Homo sapiens: one gene and its partner. The protein of the gene in region 1 interacts with the protein of each later gene in a biochemical or structural test. Each region holds a gene or a part of one and is shown in the gene's direction. Other genes may lie near its edges.

What was found. Proteins that work in one complex are often made in the same cells at the same time.
Region 2: the proteins of CNN1 (region 1) and DNMBP form a complex in vitro, tested with the Homo sapiens proteins (one study listed by BioGRID).

Annotation. Positions count from the first base shown.
Region 1 is NC_000019.10:11,533,301-11,542,863, forward strand, and holds the start of CNN1 (calponin-1), read left to right. Parts: upstream 1-5,550; 5' UTR 5,551-5,627; coding exon 5,628-5,690; intron 5,691-5,994; exon of another isoform or gene 5,995-6,269; intron 6,270-6,684; exon of another isoform or gene 6,685-7,125; coding exon of another isoform or gene 7,126-7,386; intron 7,387-7,775; coding exon 7,776-7,897; intron 7,898-9,563. UniProt on the Homo sapiens protein: Thin filament-associated protein that is implicated in the regulation and modulation of smooth muscle contraction. It is capable of binding to actin, calmodulin and tropomyosin. The interaction of calponin with actin inhibits the actomyosin Mg-ATPase activity.
Region 2 is NC_000010.11:99,950,948-99,959,116, reverse strand, and holds part of DNMBP (dynamin-binding protein), read left to right. Parts: intron 1-118; exon of another isoform or gene 119-1,911; coding exon 1,912-3,903; intron 3,904-8,169. UniProt on the Homo sapiens protein: Plays a critical role as a guanine nucleotide exchange factor (GEF) for CDC42 in several intracellular processes associated with the actin and microtubule cytoskeleton.

The DNA of each region.
Region 1 (9,563 bases):
CCAGGCTGGAATGCAGTGGCACGATCTCAGCTCACTGCAAGCTCTGCCCCACAGCTTGACGCCATTCTCCTGCCTCAGCCTCCCAAGTAGCTGGGACTACAGGCGCCCGCCACCACGCCCGGCTAATTTTTTGTATTTTTAGTAGAGACAGGGTTTCACCATGTTGGCCAGGATGGTCTCGATCTCCTGACCTCGTGATCCGCCTGCCTTGGCCTCCCAAAGTGCTGGGATTACAGGCGTGAGCCACCACACCCGGCCGTCAAGCATTCTTTTCTTTTCTTATTTATTTATTTTTCACCCAAACTAAAATGCAATGGCATGGCTGGACACAGTGGCTCATGCCTGTAATCCCAGCACTTTGGGAGGCCAAGGCAAGCAGATTACCTGAGGTCAGTAGTTCGAGACCAGTCTGGCCAACATGGTGAAACCCCATCTCTACTAAAAATACAAAAATTAGCCCGGTATGGTGGTGGGCACCTGTAATCCCAGCTACTCAGGAGGCTGAGGCAGGATAATTGCTTGAACCTGGGAGGTGGAAGTTGCAGTGAGCTGAGATCATGCCACTGTACTCCGGCCTGGGTGACAGAGTGAGATTCTGTAAAAAAAAAAAAAAAAAAAAAAATAAGCAGTGTCATGATCATAGCTCACTGTAGCCTCCAACTCCTGGGCTCAAGCAATCCTCCTGCCTTGCCCTCCCAAAATGCACTTTTTTAAAAAGCTCTCTCTCTTTTTTTTTTTTTTGTAGAGGCAGGGCCCTGCCATGTCTCCCAGGCTGGTCTTGAACTGCTGGCCTCAAACAATCTGCCCATCTTGGCCTCCCAAAGTGCTGGAATTACAGACACGAGCCACTGCACCCAGACTATAAGTGAACAGCTCCCTCCCTGTCCACCCACTCACAGTCAGTCTGGGGGTGAGAGATGCTATTATTTTACAGCAGGTGGTCAGGGAAGGCCTCTCTGAGAGGTGATATTAGAGCAGAGACTGAATGAAGTTGGGGAGAGGCCATGCAGGCATCTTGCAGAAATGTGTTCCAGGTGGCAGGAACTGCTATTGTAAAGACCCTGAGGTGGGAACATGTTTGGGGACTCAAGAAACACATCTGTAGCCCAGCGTGGTAGCGGGTGCCTGTAATCCCAGCTACTTGGGAGGCTGAGGCTCCAGAATTGCTTGAAACCAGGAGGTGGAGGTTGCAGTGAACCGAGATCATGCCACTCCAACCTGAGCGACAGAGCGATACTCTGACTCAAAAAAAAAAAAAAAAGGAGAAGAAGAAGAAGAAATAAGGAGAAGGGAGAAGAGAGAAGGGAGAAGGGGAAGAAGGAGAAGGAGGAGGAGAAGGAAGAAAGAAGAAAGAAGAAGAAGGAGGAGGAGGAGAAGCAGCAGCAGAAGAAGAGGAAGAAGAAGGAGAACAAGAAGAAAAAGAGGAAGAGGAAGAAGAAGAGGAAGAAGAAGGAGAAGGAGAAGGAGCAGCAGCAGCAGCGGAAGAGGAAGAGGAAGAAAAGAAAGAAGAAAGAAGAAAGAAGGAGAAGGAGAAGGAGAAGAAAGAAGAAAGAAGAAAGAAGAAGAAGAAGAAGAGGGAGAAGAAGAAGAAGAAACAGCACATCTGGAGGGACTTGGAAGAAAAGGTACAAACAGTGTTACCTGGGAGGGTGGCTTGGCTTCTCTGAACCTTGAGTTTCCCATCTATAAAATGGACCTATGAGTTTCTACCCTCAGAAGGTGATGGTGAGGATTAAAAGAGATTGTGGCTGGCATGGAGTGAGTGTTCCCATAACAGAAGCCTTTAGGAACAAGAGCCTCTGCCAGATTTCTGGATAGGAAAGCTTCGTGAGGAGGGAGCTTGCAGAGCAGGATGCCAAGATAGGCCGGTGCAGAGCAGGGCTTTGACTTTCCCCAAAACACACAGACAAACACGTGTGAGTGTGGGTTTTATTTTTATTTTTACATTTTTTGAGTCAGAGTCTCACTCCCGTGGCCCAGGCTGGAGTGCAGTGGTGTGATCTTGGCTCACTGCAACCTCTGCCTGACATGCCGGGTTCAAGCAATTCTCCTGCCTCAGCCTCCCGAGTAGCTGGGATTACAGGCATGTACCACCATGCCCGGCTAATTTTGTATTTTTAGTAGACACGGGGTTTCACCATGTTGGTCAGGCTGGTCTTGAACTACTGACCTCAGGTGATCCACCCGCCTTGGCCTCTCAAAGTGCTGGGATTACAGGCGTGAGAAACCACGCCCGGCCAAGTGTGAGTTTTAAATGGTTCTGAGCATCAGGAAGGTTTTAGGGGGTCCCCTGAAGTTGAGGAGAGGCATGGCTTTCCTACAATGACTGTCCTAGACCCTTCGGGAAACCGTGCCTCTTACAAGATCCTACACTTCTCATTTAGATGGTAAACTGAGGCACAGAGGGGCTAGAGCCTGGAAAATGCCAGAAAGGAGCGAATAAGGGATGACACTCGGGTGTCTACTGGGATTGGGGCCTCGATATGGGATCAGCCCCCTCTAATGCCTCTACCCCCATCTACCAGACAGAGACGCGAAGAGAGACGGACAATACAGCGACAGCGACATGAAGAGAAACAGAATGACTCAAAGACCAGGCACAGAAACAGAGACACAGAGACAAAGGCAGAGACAGAAAAAGGCTCAGCGACCCAGAGACGGAGATACAGAGACACAGACCTACTACAATCAGAGGGACAAGGCAGTCCCCGAAAGGGCTGCCCCCTGGGGGTACCCGGGGCTGCCCCGTTGGGGGGCACGCCAAGAGCTCCCCCACCCCGCCCCCGTCGTGCCTGGGCCGTGACTTCAGAGTCCGTGCAGATTCTATAAATGGCCAAGAGGCCGCGGGCCGGGGGGCGGGGCCGAGTGAGTCATCGCGTGACGTCACCGCCGCCTGGACCTCGCCAGGTCCCGCCCCCGCCCCTCCCGGGCCGCCAGGGGGCGCCGGCTGCAGGTCCTCACATGCGCAGTAGCGAACTGCGGCCCCCGAGGGCCGCTCAGTTTGGGAGGGATCCAGGAATCTGCGCGTTCGAATCCCGCCCCTGCCACCCTCGAGCTGTGTGACCCGGCCATTCGGCGTCACCTCTCTGTGCCTCGTATAGACCCACCTCATAAGGCTGTCGTGAGGAATGAGTTAACAGGCTCAAAGCTCTTAGTACGTAGCAGGTGCTAATTGTTAGCTCATTTTATGTACTTTCTATTTTTTCTTTTTTTTTTTTTTAAATAGAGACGGGGTCTCGCTATGTTGCCTAAGCTGGTCTCGGGTCTCGAACTCCAGGGCTCAAGCGATCCTCCCGCCTTGGCCTCGTATTTTATGTATTTTCGTGTATGTTCAACATATCATGACATGCCATCAACTAGCACATTGCCTTAGCTCAGTGGTTGGCAAACAGGGGTGATCTGCTTCCACCCCGACCCCAATCATGGGACATTGGCAATGTGTGTAGACATTTCTTCTTTTAATTTTTCTTTTTTAGAGACCATGGTCTTGCTATCTTGGCCAGATGGTTCTCAAACTCCTGGGCTCAAGGGATCCTCCCACCTCAGCCTCCTTAGTAGCTGGGACTACAGGGTCCTGCCGCAGTGCCTCAACATTTCTGTTTATTAGGACTAAGAGAGTGCTACTGGCATGTAGCAGGTAGAGGCCAGGCATGCTGCTTGAAGTCTTACAATGAATGCCCAAGGCAGCCCCCCAACCATGAAGAATTATCCAGCCTCAGCTGTCAACAGTGTGGAGGTTGAGAAACCCCACCTTAGCCTCATAGTTGAGGTTCATGGAGCATGGTCTCAAATTCTCCTCTGCCCCTGGCCTGCTGTGTGACGCTGAAAAAGTGATTCCAAGCCCCCGTGCCTCAGTTTCCCCACCTGTAAAGCAAAGTACTTGTATTAATAATAACAGTGTCAGCTGGGCACGGTGGCTCACGCCTGTAATCCCAGCACTTTGCAAGGCCGAGGTGGGCAGATCAACTGAGGTCAGGAGTTCGAGACCAGCCTGGCTAACATGGCAAAACCCCGTCTCTACTAAAAATACAAAAAATAGCCAGTCGTGGTGGCAGACACCTGTCATCCCAGCTACTTGGGAGGCTGAGGCAGGAGAATCGCTTGAACCCAGGAGGTGGAGGTTGCAGTGAGCCGAGATAGCATCACTGCACTCCAGCCTGGGGAATAGAGACTCTGTCTCCAAATAATAATAATAATAATAATAATAATAATAATAACAGTGTCCATCTCTGAGGGCGTCATGAGAATTGAATGGATATATGTACAGAGTTGGAACATGGCCTGACATAAGGGCTGTAGTCTGTGGCATATTGCAGCCATGCCATTAGCATGTGACCGATAAACTGCATATCCTCAACATATCATTAGTGTGTGGCAGGTTGCAGACATGTCATCCAAGTGTCACAAACATGGCCTTGCCATGTGGGGCATGATGTGGGCATAGCATCCACCCCTGTGGTCCAGGGGTGAGATCTGGCTGGGTAGGGCTGTTTGACAGGGACACAGTTCACGGCCTGGGACTTGCCAACAAAGTCACCCTGTAGTTCAGGTGACACACAAGTGGATGGGGAGGGTGAGACCCAGGATCTCTTCTCCCCCAGGTCCTTATGAGGGGCTGGAGGAGACAGAACTGGGGTGCTGGACCCTCAGCATAAAGAATGCTATAGGCTGGGCATGGTGACTCATGCCTGTAAATCCCAGCGTTTTGGGAGGCCAAGGCGGGCAGATTGCTTGAGCCCAGAAATTTGAGACCAGCCTGGGCAACATAGCGAGACCCCGGGCAACATAGCGAGACCCCATCTCTAAAAAAATAAAATAAAATTAGCCAGGTTGGTGGCACAAGTCTGCAATTCTAACTACTTGGATGGGCTGAGATGGGAGGATCACTTGAGCCTGGGAGGTCAAGGCTGCAGTGAGCTGTGATTGTGCCACTGCACTCCAGCCGAGGGGACAGAGTGAAACCTTGCCTTAAAAAGACTGCTATGGCCCGAGTCCCTCTGCTGTGCCGGGCACTGTGCTGGGCATGTAACAGGCATATTCTTCTGATCTTTACAACTCTCCCATGAGGCAGGCACTATCGTTAGCCCATTTTACAGATGTGGCCATAGAGGCCCAGAGAGGAGAAGGGGCTTACCTAAGGCTATAGACTGTTGGTATCTGGAGATAAACCCGGGATGGTGCTCACTAAACTACCTTGGGTGTCAGTCCTGCTTCAAGACTCCAGAGAGATAAAGAGAGATGACCTCAGAGACAAAGAGACTCAGACCCAGCCAGAGGCCCAATGGACAGTGGGAGGGGTGGGTGGAAGAAGGCTGGTCTCTGTCTGACCAAGCCCCCCCAGAATAACGCAGGCTGCCCCCCTAGGTGGAAACAATGACACAATCAGCTCCCAATACCAAGGGCCTGACATCACAAGGGGAGGGGAAGGCAGCTGAGGTTGTGGGGGGAGGTGCCCCGCCCCTTGGCAGGCCCCTACAGCCAATGGAACGGCCCTGGAAGAGACCCGGGTCGCCTCCGGAGCTTCAAAAACATGTGAGGAGGGAAGAGTGTGCAGACGGAACTTCAGCCGCTGCCTCTGTTCTCAGCGTCAGTGCCGCCACTGCCCCCGCCAGAGCCCACCGGCCAGCATGTCCTCTGCTCACTTCAACCGAGGCCCTGCCTACGGGCTGTCAGCCGAGGTTAAGAACAAGGTAGGGCTGGAGGGCCTCCCTGGCCTGGCCCACACGTCCTGCCAGGCCAGAGCCCTGAGCTTGGGGTCCCTTGAACCCCCTCCTGCCTATCCTATGTGACTTGGAAACTGAGAGGGGAAAAGGGAGTGATATGGGATAGGGGCTGCCTGTCTCCCCCTGAACATCCCGGAGCCCCCAGCTATGGTTGGGGCTGGAATGGGGGGGCACACAGCCACACATAAACAGAGGGGGTCAGTCCATTGCAAAGATACCCACCTGATCAGTCTTCTGTTAACCCTTCGTGTTCTTGGGGGGAACAACATAGGGGGAAGACTTGTTGATTTTTCCATATCCCCCGGCCTGACAAAGAAATTGGGGAGCGCTTGAGTGCTGGGGTACCTGGGAAGTGACGCCGTGAAAGTGTGGGAGATCCTGAAGACAGAGGGGGACGGTGAAAGGCAGGAAGCGGGCATCAGAAGTGCGGCAGGGGTCTCCTGACTGTGGAGCTAGGAAGATACCTGGACACCACCTTCATGCTATGGTTGGGTAAACTGAGGTTCGGAGAGGAGAGGCAAATAGCTGGGGTCCCAGGTAAAGCAGGTACAGCGCTCGGACCCTGGACTCACCCCCCATACACCAGGATGGGCTCAGCTTCTCCCAGCTGGAGAACTTTAAGTTTCCAGCCCACTGGAATCGCCCCAACAGTATTGCCGAGGGAGGAGTTCCTGCCCCATTTGACAGAGGGGAACACTGAGGCTCAGGGTGGCTTTTCCCAGGGTCCCATGGTGAGGAAGTGGGGGACTGGGTTGGAACCTGGGTCGAGGGATCTCGGGGCTGGAGGAGGGGGCTGGTGGGGGGCGGGTCCTCGGGCGAGAGACAGATCCCAGCGCCGCCCTCCTCCCCCCCAGCGCCGGCCCCAGAGCCGCGCAGAGCCGCGCAGAGACGCCGCGCCTTATAAGGCGGCCTCGGGGAGCCCGGGCCACGCTATATAAGGGCCGGTTTGCTTTATAAAGCCGGGCTGGTGGCGTGGGGGGCGGCAGGGCCAGGGCCAGGTGAGGGGGCCGCCCCTCCCACCTCCCCCCACTCACCCGGGAGAAGAAGAGGCAGCCCGGTCCCCTAGGGGCTGGGAGCCTGGCTGGGCTTGGGCGGAGGGTTCTGGAGAAATGGGAGTGGAGTGGGGGAGGGGGGGGACAGTGGAGAGAGGGAAAAGCAGGGAGGTGGGGGGAGAGGCAGACAGAGATACTGGGAGCCTGAGACACCCTAGGGACAGACGGGGGAGGGCGAGCCAGGAGCGAGATAAGACCTAGACAAGGATGGAGGGGCAGGGAGAGGAGACAGAGCCCCACCACCCCCACCCCAGGCAGGAAACCTGGAGACAGAGAAAGACCTAGAGAGGCAGATATACAAGACCCAGGAGCCCTACCCCTGGCCAGACAGGGACTAGCCACCTAGAGAGATGGGGACCCAAGACTGGGCCAAGAAAAGACAGCGCTGGGGAAGAGAGAGACAGAGGAGTCGGGGGGATAAGAGGGAGAGAGACATACAGACGTGCAAGGGGTGGGGGCTAAGACAGAGACAAGCCCCCACCACTAACCAGAGACAGAGCCCTGGAGCTGAAGACCTGGGGGACACGGAGAGACAGAGATGTATGACCAGCACTCCTCTGCAAGCCAGCACCCAGGGACACCTCCTTAGACATCCTTCTTCCCTTCCTGAGGTGCCCTCTCTTCCAACAGGGGGCACAGAGGGGGCAGGGCTAGAGGAAGAGAAGCCCCAAGTTTGGCCTGGGCGAAAAACCAGGGTGCCGGGTGCCACCCCTCTAGCTCAGAGGATCCAGCTCCCCACACCCCACCCCTCATCTACATTCCCTGGTGCCAAACCTCAGAATGCCCGGAATGGCCCCCTGGGCAGGTGCCACCTCAGCCCTGGCTCTCAGCCCGCCCCAGCCCCCATCCCCCAACTATGGATCTGGGGCAAAATTGCCTTAGTTGGGAAGGACGAGGGAGATCAGGCTCTAGGAAGTTCAGACAGGACCCAGGGAGCCCAGGCTGCCCCCAATGCATCCTCACCCCTTTCTCTGTGCCCCCTGCCCTCCCCTCGCCCCAGCTGGCCCAGAAGTATGACCACCAGCGGGAGCAGGAGCTGAGAGAGTGGATCGAGGGGGTGACAGGCCGTCGCATCGGCAACAACTTCATGGACGGCCTCAAAGATGGCATCATTCTTTGCGAGTGAGTGAGGCTCTCGAAGCCGAGACCCTGCAACATCCCCCAACTCCATGCAGCCCCTCAACCCCCAAAACAACCATGATCCTGGAACTGAGTTGAACACTTTCTATTGGATACCTTTGGGGTGGCCAGTAATCATTGTGCCCATTTAACAGGCACAGAAAACTGAGGCTCAGGTGAAATGCATTGCACCAAGTCCCACGTGGTTTCAAGGGAAATGACTCTAGAATCTTAACCACCATGCTATATAGGGTAGGCCCATCTGTGGCCGCCAGAGTCCCCAGAAAGAGCGGTCACAGCTAAAAGGCAGCAGCCAACAGCTGTTCATGGCTGGCTTGGTGATGTGAGGAGAGATGTGCAGCAATAATTAAAGGAGGCCCTGGTTTTCTTTCTGTTTTCTTTTTGTTTTTTTGAGATACAGTCTTGTTCTGTTGCCCAGGCTGCAGTGCAGAGACACAATCTCGGCTCACTGCAACCTCCGCCTCCAGGGTTTAAGTGATTCTCCTGCCTCAGCCTCCCCAATAGCTGGGATTACAGGCACGCACCACCATGCCTGGCTAATTTTTGTATTTTTTTAAAGTAGAGATGGGGTTTCACCATGTTGGCCAGGATGGTTACGAACTCCTGACCTCAATTGATCCACCTACCTCAGCCTCCCAAAGTGCTGGGATTACAGGCACGTGCCACCATGCCCGGTTAATTTTTGTTTTTTTTTTTTTTTTTTCAGTAGAGATGGAGTTTCACCATGTTGACTAGGCTGGTCTTGAACTCCTGACTTCAAGTGATCCACCTGCCTTGGCCTCCCAAAGTGCTGGGATTGCAGGCACATGCCACCACGCCTGGCTAATTTTTGTATTTTTTTTTTTTTTTTTTAGTAGAGACAGTGTTTCACCATGTTGACCGGGCTGGTCTCAAACTCCTGACCTCAAGTGATCCACCTGCCTCGGCCTCCCAAATTGCTGGGATTACAGGCATGAGCCACCTCGCCCGACCTTCTTCTTCTTCTTCTTTTTTTTGAGATGGAGTCTTCCTCTGTCACCCGGGCTGGAGTGCAGTGACATGATCTCAGCTCACTGCAACCTCTGCTTTCCGGGTTCAAGTGATTCTTGTGTCTCAGCCTCCTGAGCAGCTGGGATTACAGGTGCCCACCACCTTGCCCGGATAACTTTTGTATTTTTAGTAGAGACGGGATTTTGCCATGTTGGCCTGGCTGGTCTCGAACTCCTGACCTCAAGTGATCCACCCGCCTTAGTCTCACAAAGTGCTGGCATTACAGGCATGAACCACTGCACCCTGCCGGCCCTGGTTTTCTCCTCGCCTCAAAACCTCATTGCTGAGGGAGGTGAAAACCCTAACAGCTCCCAAGCCCCAGTTCCACTGCAATCTTTTTTTTTTTTTTCAGATGGAATCTTGCTTTGTGACCCAGGCTGGAGTGCAGTGGCATGATCTTGGCTCACTGCAAGCTCTGCCTCCCAGGTTCAAGCAATTCTCCTGCCTCAGCCTCCTGAGTAGCTGGGATTACAGGTGCCCGCCACCACGCCCAGCTAATTTTTGTATTTTTAGTAGAGACGGGGTTTCACCATGTTGGTCAGGCTGGTCTCGAACCCCTGACCTTGTGATCCACCCACCTCGGCCTCCCAAAGTGCTGGGATTATAGGCGTGAGCCACC
Region 2 (8,169 bases), on another chromosome or scaffold:
ATTTTTAATGTTCAACTTACTAAAAGAAAACCAGATTCTATTTGCATCTGTATTCAATCTGTTGCAATGTGTTGTTTTCATGGAATTATGTGAAGAAAATCCAGCCTTACACAAATATGCAATGGGAGACAGGAAAAGGTATTTTAATAGTCTTTTCAAATAATTGCAAATATTCATCGTTGACACTGCACCAAAATTCAACGATTGGTAATTTCTTACGAGTTAATTGCAGTGTGGGATCTGAAACTACGTCGGTGAACTTTCATAATATTACACTAAAATTCATTAATCTATCTTGCTTTTGGAGTGTGAATCTTTTAGCCATGAATGATTTTATACCAGCATGCATTTGTCATTTAGGAAATATTGATTCAATTAGCTACTCAGTTATTCCAAATGTTGACCATTTCAACATACAATGTGAAAAAATCATATTTGTTACTATCTCATCAGAAGAATCTTTAAGTATGGGAAAGCTGCCAAGCCCATGGTAGTAGATACAAGTTTTCCAAAATTCTCATTTTCTCTTGGAAGTTGGAATTTTATCATTGGCAACAAATACTGTCATTTGTTCTCCTTGATGTTTCAGACTCACTTTCATTTTGGAGGAAACATCTGCCAGATATCTAAGTCTGAATAAACATAGTTGTCTGTTATTCATTCTTGCACATAAAATGGTGTTATGTGAAAATAAACAGACGGTTCAGGCATATAACTCAGTTACTCGTGCTTCTCCTCAGCAGTAAAAGTGCTTTATGTGTAATTCCTATATTGTCACACAGAATATTACAAAAGAATTGTTCTTAAGGGTTGAGATTTAGCACAGTGCATAATTTGTATTGCTTCTTAACTGAAAATGGCTTTTTTAAAAACTGTGAGTACATGGTTGTGAAGAATACGATGACCATACAGTGACTATTCATGTAATTTGTGGCTACTGCCTTTGCTTATGAATTGCCAGCAGTTTTTAATTAATTTATTATTTTTTTGAGATGGAGTCTTGCTCTGTTGCCCAAGCTGGAGTGCAGTGGTGCGATCTCGGCTCACTGCGACCTCTGCCTCCTGAGTTTAATTTCTGCCTCAGCCTCCTGAATAGCTGGGACTACAGGCACGTGCCACCATGCTCAGCTAATTTTTGTATTTTTAGTAGAGATGGTGTTTCACCATGTTGACCAGGCTGCTCTCGAACTCCTGACCTCAAGTGATCCGCCTGCCTTGGCCTCCCAAAGTGCTGGGATCACAGGCATGAGCCATCGCGCCCAGCCATTTTATTTTTATTTTTGAGACAAGTGTTGCTCTGTCACCCAGACTGGAGCGTAGTGGTGAAATCACAGCTTACTGCAGCCTTGACCTCCTGGGTTCAAGCTATCCTCCCACCTCAGCCTCCTGAATAGCTGGGACTACAGGCATGAGCCACAGTGCACAGCTAATTTTTAAATTTATTGTAGAGACAAGGTCTTGACATGTTGCCCAGGCTGGTTTTGAACTCCTGGTCTCAAGCGATCCTCCTGCCTTGGCCTCCCAAAGTGCTCGGATTTCTGGTGTAAGCCACAGCACCTAGCTGGCCAGCAGTTTTAATCACCATTGCTTTTTCACAGAGATTACAAAAGTCAGCAGAGTAAAATATGTAGATAAAGTCTTAGTGTTATTATGAGAATGGTTTTGACCTCACAGATTCTCTGCTAGGATCTTGGAGACCCACCTGTAGGGTTCCATGGAACACTCTGAAAACTACAGGTTTATAGAACTGCTCCAATTCAATAAATTGTCAAAATTGTTCATGCTCCTAAAGCTCTAGGTGTATTTCCTTGAATTTGGTAGCTGTTTAAAATGAGAGGTTGCACTATTAGTCGTGATAATGTTCTGCTGGGTGATGACTGAGGTCACCATCTCTGCTCCTCTTTTCTTTAGGTGACCTGGTGATTCTCGATGGCATTCCCACTGCAGGCTGGCTGCAGGGCCGAAGCTGCTGGGGCGCACGGGGCTTCTTCCCATCTTCATGTGTCCGCGAGCTCTGCCTCTCCTCACAGAGCCGGCAGTGGCACTCCCAGAGCGCCCTGTTTCAGATTCCGGAATATTCCATGGGACAAGCCCGGGCCCTAATGGGGCTTTCTGCTCAGCTGGATGAAGAGCTGGACTTCAGGGAAGGGGATGTGATCACCATTATTGGAGTTCCTGAACCAGGCTGGTTTGAAGGGGAGTTAGAGGGCCGAAGAGGCATTTTTCCAGAAGGTTTTGTAGAGCTGTTGGGGCCCCTGAGGACTGTGGATGAGTCAGTAAGTTCTGGAAATCAAGATGACTGCATTGTTAATGGTGAAGTAGATACCCCTGTAGGAGAAGAAGAGATAGGGCCGGATGAGGATGAGGAGGAGCCAGGGACCTATGGGGTCGCCCTGTACAGATTCCAAGCCCTGGAGCCAAATGAGCTGGATTTCGAGGTCGGGGATAAAATCCGAATTCTGGCGACCTTGGAAGATGGCTGGCTGGAAGGATCCCTGAAGGGCAGGACAGGCATCTTTCCTTACCGGTTTGTGAAATTATGTCCTGACACACGGGTGGAGGAAACCATGGCTCTGCCCCAGGAAGGCAGCCTTGCCAGGATCCCGGAAACTTCTTTGGATTGTTTGGAGAACACCTTAGGAGTAGAGGAACAAAGACATGAAACCAGTGACCATGAGGCCGAGGAGCCTGACTGCATTATTTCTGAAGCACCCACTTCTCCCCTCGGTCATCTGACTTCAGAGTATGACACAGACAGAAACTCTTATCAGGACGAGGACACCGCAGGAGGGCCCCCGAGAAGCCCAGGCGTGGAGTGGGAAATGCCTCTTGCCACAGACTCTCCCACATCTGACCCTACAGAAGTAGTCAATGGTATTTCCTCCCAACCTCAGGTCCCTTTTCATCCCAACTTGCAGAAAAGCCAGTATTATTCTACAGTGGGAGGGAGCCACCCGCACTCAGAACAGTACCCCGACCTTCTTCCCCTAGAAGCAAGGACTAGAGACTATGCCAGCCTACCTCCCAAAAGAATGTATTCCCAGCTAAAAACTCTTCAGAAGCCAGTGCTCCCTCTTTACAGGGGCTCTTCTGTTTCAGCTTCAAGGGTAGTCAAACCCAGACAATCAAGTCCTCAGCTCCACAACCTAGCAAGTTATACTAAAAAGCACCACACGTCCAGTGTTTACTCCATCTCAGAGAGATTGGAGATGAAGCCTGGTCCGCAAGCCCAAGGGCTTGTTATGGAAGCAGCAACACATTCACAGGGAGACGGCAGCACTGACCTGGACTCGAAGCTGACACAACAGCTGATCGAGTTTGAGAAGAGCTTGGCAGGGCCCGGCACAGAGCCAGATAAAATTTTACGCCACTTTTCAATCATGGACTTTAACTCTGAGAAGGATATTGTCCGAGGTTCCTCAAAGTTAATCACCGAGCAGGAGCTGCCGGAAAGGAGAAAGGCCCTAAGGCCACCGCCACCTCGTCCCTGTACTCCGGTATCCACTTCTCCCCATTTGCTGGTTGACCAGAACCTAAAACCTGCACCACCCTTGGTGGTGCGACCCTCTCGCCCAGCTCCCCTGCCTCCCTCAGCACAGCAGAGAACGAATGCGGTATCCCCCAAGCTCCTATCTCGACACCGTCCTACCTGTGAGACCTTAGAAAAGGAGGGCCCTGGTCATATGGGAAGGAGTCTGGACCAGACCTCCCCATGCCCCTTAGTGCTGGTGAGGATTGAGGAAATGGAGCGGGACTTGGATATGTACAGTAGAGCTCAAGAAGAGCTAAACCTCATGCTGGAGGAGAAGCAGGATGAATCATCAAGAGCAGAGACCCTCGAGGATCTCAAGTTCTGTGAAAGTAACATTGAAAGTTTGAATATGGAACTCCAGCAACTAAGAGGTAAGTGACGAGGAAATAATATGTAATTGTTTCTTGACACTCACAAGTCCCAGAAACAGCCTACCCAGGCTTTTTAGGGATATGTTACCATCCTCGATGGACAAAAAATGATTTACATTTTCATTACCTAATTTCTTTTCTTTTTTTTTTTTTCCTTTTTTTTGAGACAGTCTCGCTCTGTTGCCCAGGCTGGAGTGCAGTGGCATGAACTTGGCTCACTGCAGCCTCCACCTCCTGGGCTCAAGTGATTCTCCTGCCTCAGCCTCCCAAATGGCTGGGATTGCAGACATGCGCCATCACCACACCTGGCTAATTTTTGTATTTTTAGTAGAGACAGTGTTTTGCCATGTTGCCAGGCTGGTCTTGAACTCCTGGCCTTGGGTGATCCACCTGCCTCGGCCTCCCAAAGTGTTGGGATTACAGGCATGAGCCACCACGCCCGGCCTCTTTTTTTTTTTTTTTTTTTTTTGAGACAGAGTTTCGCTCTTGTTGCCCAGGCTGGAGTGCAATGGCGCGACCTTGGCTTACCACAACCTCTGCCTCCCAGGTTCAAGCGATTCTCCTGCCTCAGCCTCCTGAGTAGCTGGGATTACAGGCAAGCGCCACCATGCCTGGCTAATTTTGTATTTTTAGTAGAGATGGGAATTCTCCATGTTGGTCAGGCTGGTCTCGAACTCCTGACCTCAGGTGATCCGCCCACCTTGACCTCCCAAAGTGCTGGGATTACAGGCATGAGCCACCGCACCCAGCCTCACTACCTAATTTCTTATTTCATCACCCTAGATAGGCTGTCTTGAGCCTCTGACTCTGTTTTGAGCCTATGACTGCTGTAGCCTCCTGACTTCATTTGCTGCTCAGATAAAGAATCTCAAACCTTGCCGGGTGCGGTGGCTCACACCTGTGATCCCAGCACTTCGGAAGGCTGCGGTGGGTGGATTGCTTGAGCCCAGGAGTTTGAGACCAGCCTGGGCAACAGGGCCAAACCCTGCTTCTACAAAAAAATACAAAAAATAATTAGCCAGGAGTGGTGGTATATCCCAGTAGTCCCAGCTACTCGGGAGGCTGAGGTGGGAGGATTGCTTGAACCTGGGAGGCAGAGGTTGCTGTGAGCAATGATCATGCCACTGCTCTCCAGCTTGGGCAACAGAGTGAGACCCTGTCTCCAAAAAAAAAAAGAATCTCATACCTCGGAGACACATATACCTCTGGGACATTTATGTCTCTTATTCTGCTATGGCATCCATAGCAGTGGTGCAGATGGGAAGTCCCTAAGTAGAACTTTCTTTAATCAGGCTCCATTAAGCACTAAAGACTTCCAGGTTAAGAAAGACTCATGAGAAAACTCCATCTTGTATCTTTGCTGTCCAGAGAGTAGATTTCTTTTTTTTCTTTTTTTTTTTGAGACAGAGTCTTACTCTGTCACCCAGGCTGTAGTGGTGAGATCTTGGCTCACTGCAACCTGTGCCTCCCGGGTTCAAGTGATCTCATGCCTCAGCCTCCTGAATAGCTGAGATTACAGGTGCATGCCACCACGCCTGGCTAATTTTTCTATTTTTAGCAGAGATGGGGTTTTGTCACATTGCCCAGGCTGGTCTCAAACTCCTGACCTCGAGTGATCCACCCACCTTGGCCTCCCAAAGTGCTGGGATACCATGCCTGGCCAAGGGAGTAGATTTTAATAATAGTAATAGCTAACATTTATTACCATATTAGTAAGCATGTGTTAGAATTTGCCTACAGGAAGAATGTTCACAGCTACCCTAAAGGTACAATGATAATTCATATGGCTACTCTATAGATGAGGAAACTAAGACATAGATATTGAGTAGGCTCAAGCCTGTAATACCAGCACTTTGGGAGGCCGACGTAGGAGGATCACTAGAGCCCAGGAGTTCAAGAGCAGCCTGGGCAACATAGAGAGACCTGTCTCTTAAAAAAAAAAAAAGTTTTAAATTAAATTTGAAAAGAGATTAAGTGACTTGCCAAGGGAGTTGGGATTTAAGCTTATGTTTCTAACAACTATAGTTCACCGCTTCCTATACTGGCACACTGAAAATTCAAATTATTTCCCTTAATTTGGGAATGATAAGCCTCTGGAGACTTCATTCATATTCACCAGACTCACAGGAGAAAAAATTTATAAATAGGAAGAGTACAAGAGGTAGGCAACCAACAGCAATTGGTCTAGGGCCCAAGAACGTGAATACATGTCACTTTTGGCTTGTGTACCAGAGATTTGAACTTATGTGTCATCAGGAAAGTCAATAATAGAAAGCAACCCAGGGGGTCTAGGAATAGCAGGATACTAATAAGAGATAAAAGCAGAATGGTGATCCAGAGATCCTGGATCAAGATGGCAGACTGAGCACATATAGCTACCTCCCTCCCTTTCTACTTTAGGTCTATAAAAGTGAATGGAAATAATAGAATAAAAAAATTCCAATAAAAAAGAGTATTATTGGAAATCAAGTAATCTTCTGAAAGATGATATAGCAGAAAGAGAGGGAAACCTCTATTCAAAATATTCTTAGGAAAGGACTATTATGCATGTGGGCAGAGTTCTAAGGGAACTGCAGACTAAGAGATGGTGCGGTAGGAGGGGTCCTAGAGCACATTCAGTGTAATTGATTAGGGGATAGCTAGGGAGCCAGGCCGCTGGGTTGCTTGTACTGAACAGCAGGAGCATTTACCCTCAAGCTACAGCATGAAGTAGATGCTTAGACAAGTCCTCAAAAAGGTGTTCATTTAATATGAGTACTTGAGCTCTCAGGGGAATGCCAGATACCTTGATTTCAGAGTCCCTGAAAAAGAATTCTGAGGGAACCTTGGCTGAGTGTTACATTCCCAAAGCCCTAGCAAACTCCAGATTCTCCATCACTTTCTATACCTACAAGTTTCAAGATAAACCTGTAAACAATTCTTGCATTAGATATTGTATTAGTCCATTTTCACACTGCTGATGAAGATACCAGATACTGGGCAATTTACAAAATGAAGAGGTTTAATGGACTTACAATTCCACATGGTTGGGGAGGCCTCACAATCATGGTGGAAGGCAAGGAGGAGCAAGTCACGTCTTACATGGATGATAGCAGGCAAAGAGAGAGTTTGTGTAGGGAGACTCCCATTTTTCAAAACCATCAGATCTCATGAGACTTACTCACTCTCACGAGAGCAGCACAGGAAAGACCTGCCCCCATGATTCAATTATCTCCCACCGGCTCCCTCCCACAACACATAGGAATTCAAGATGAGTTTGGAGTGGGGACACAGCCAAACCATATCATTCTGCCTGGATCCTCCCAAATCTCATGTCGTCACATTTCAAAACTAATCATGCCTTCCCAACAGTCCCCCAAAGTCTTAACTCATTTCAGCATTAACTCAAAAGTCCACAGTTCGACGTCTCATCTGAGACAAGGCAAGTCCCTTCTGCCTATGAGCCTGTAAAATCAAAAGCAAGTTAGTTACTTCCTAGAAACAATGGGGATACAGGCATTGGGTAAATACAGCCATTCCAAATGGGAGAAATTGGCCAAAACAAAGGGGCTACAGGCCCCACGCAAGTCTGAAATCCAGTGGGGCAGTCAAATCTTAAAGCTCCAAAATGATCTCCTTTGACTCCATGTCTCACAACGAGGTCACACCGATGCAAGAGGTGGGTTCCCATGGTGTTGGGCGGCTCTGCCCCTGTGGCTCTCCAGGGTACAGCCTCCCTCCTGGCTGCTTTCACGGGCTGATGTTGAGTGTCTACAGCTTTTCCAGGCACACGGTGCAAGCTGTTGGTGGATCTACCATTCTGGGGTCTGGAAGATTTTGGCCCTCTTCTCACAGCTCCACTAGGTGGTGCCCCAGTAGGGACTCTGTGTAGAGGCTCTGACCCCACATTTTCCTTCTGCACTGCCCCAGCAGAGGTTCTCCATGAGAGCCCTGCACCTGCAGCAAACTTCTGCCTGGACATCCAGGCATTTCCATACATCCTCTGAAATCGAGGCAGAGGTTCCCAAACCTCAGTTCTTCTGTGCACCCGCAGGCTCAACACCACATGGAAGCTGCCAAGGCTTGGGGCTTGCACCCTCTGAAGCCATGGCCTGAGTTCTACATTGGCCCCTTTCAGCCATGGCTGGAGCAGCTGGGACACAGGGCACCAAGTCCCTAGGCTGCACACAGCATAGTGATCCTGGGCACAGCCCAGGAAATCACTCTTTCCTCCTAGGCCTTTGGGCCTGTGATGGGTGCAGTTGCCGTGAAGACCTCTGACATGCC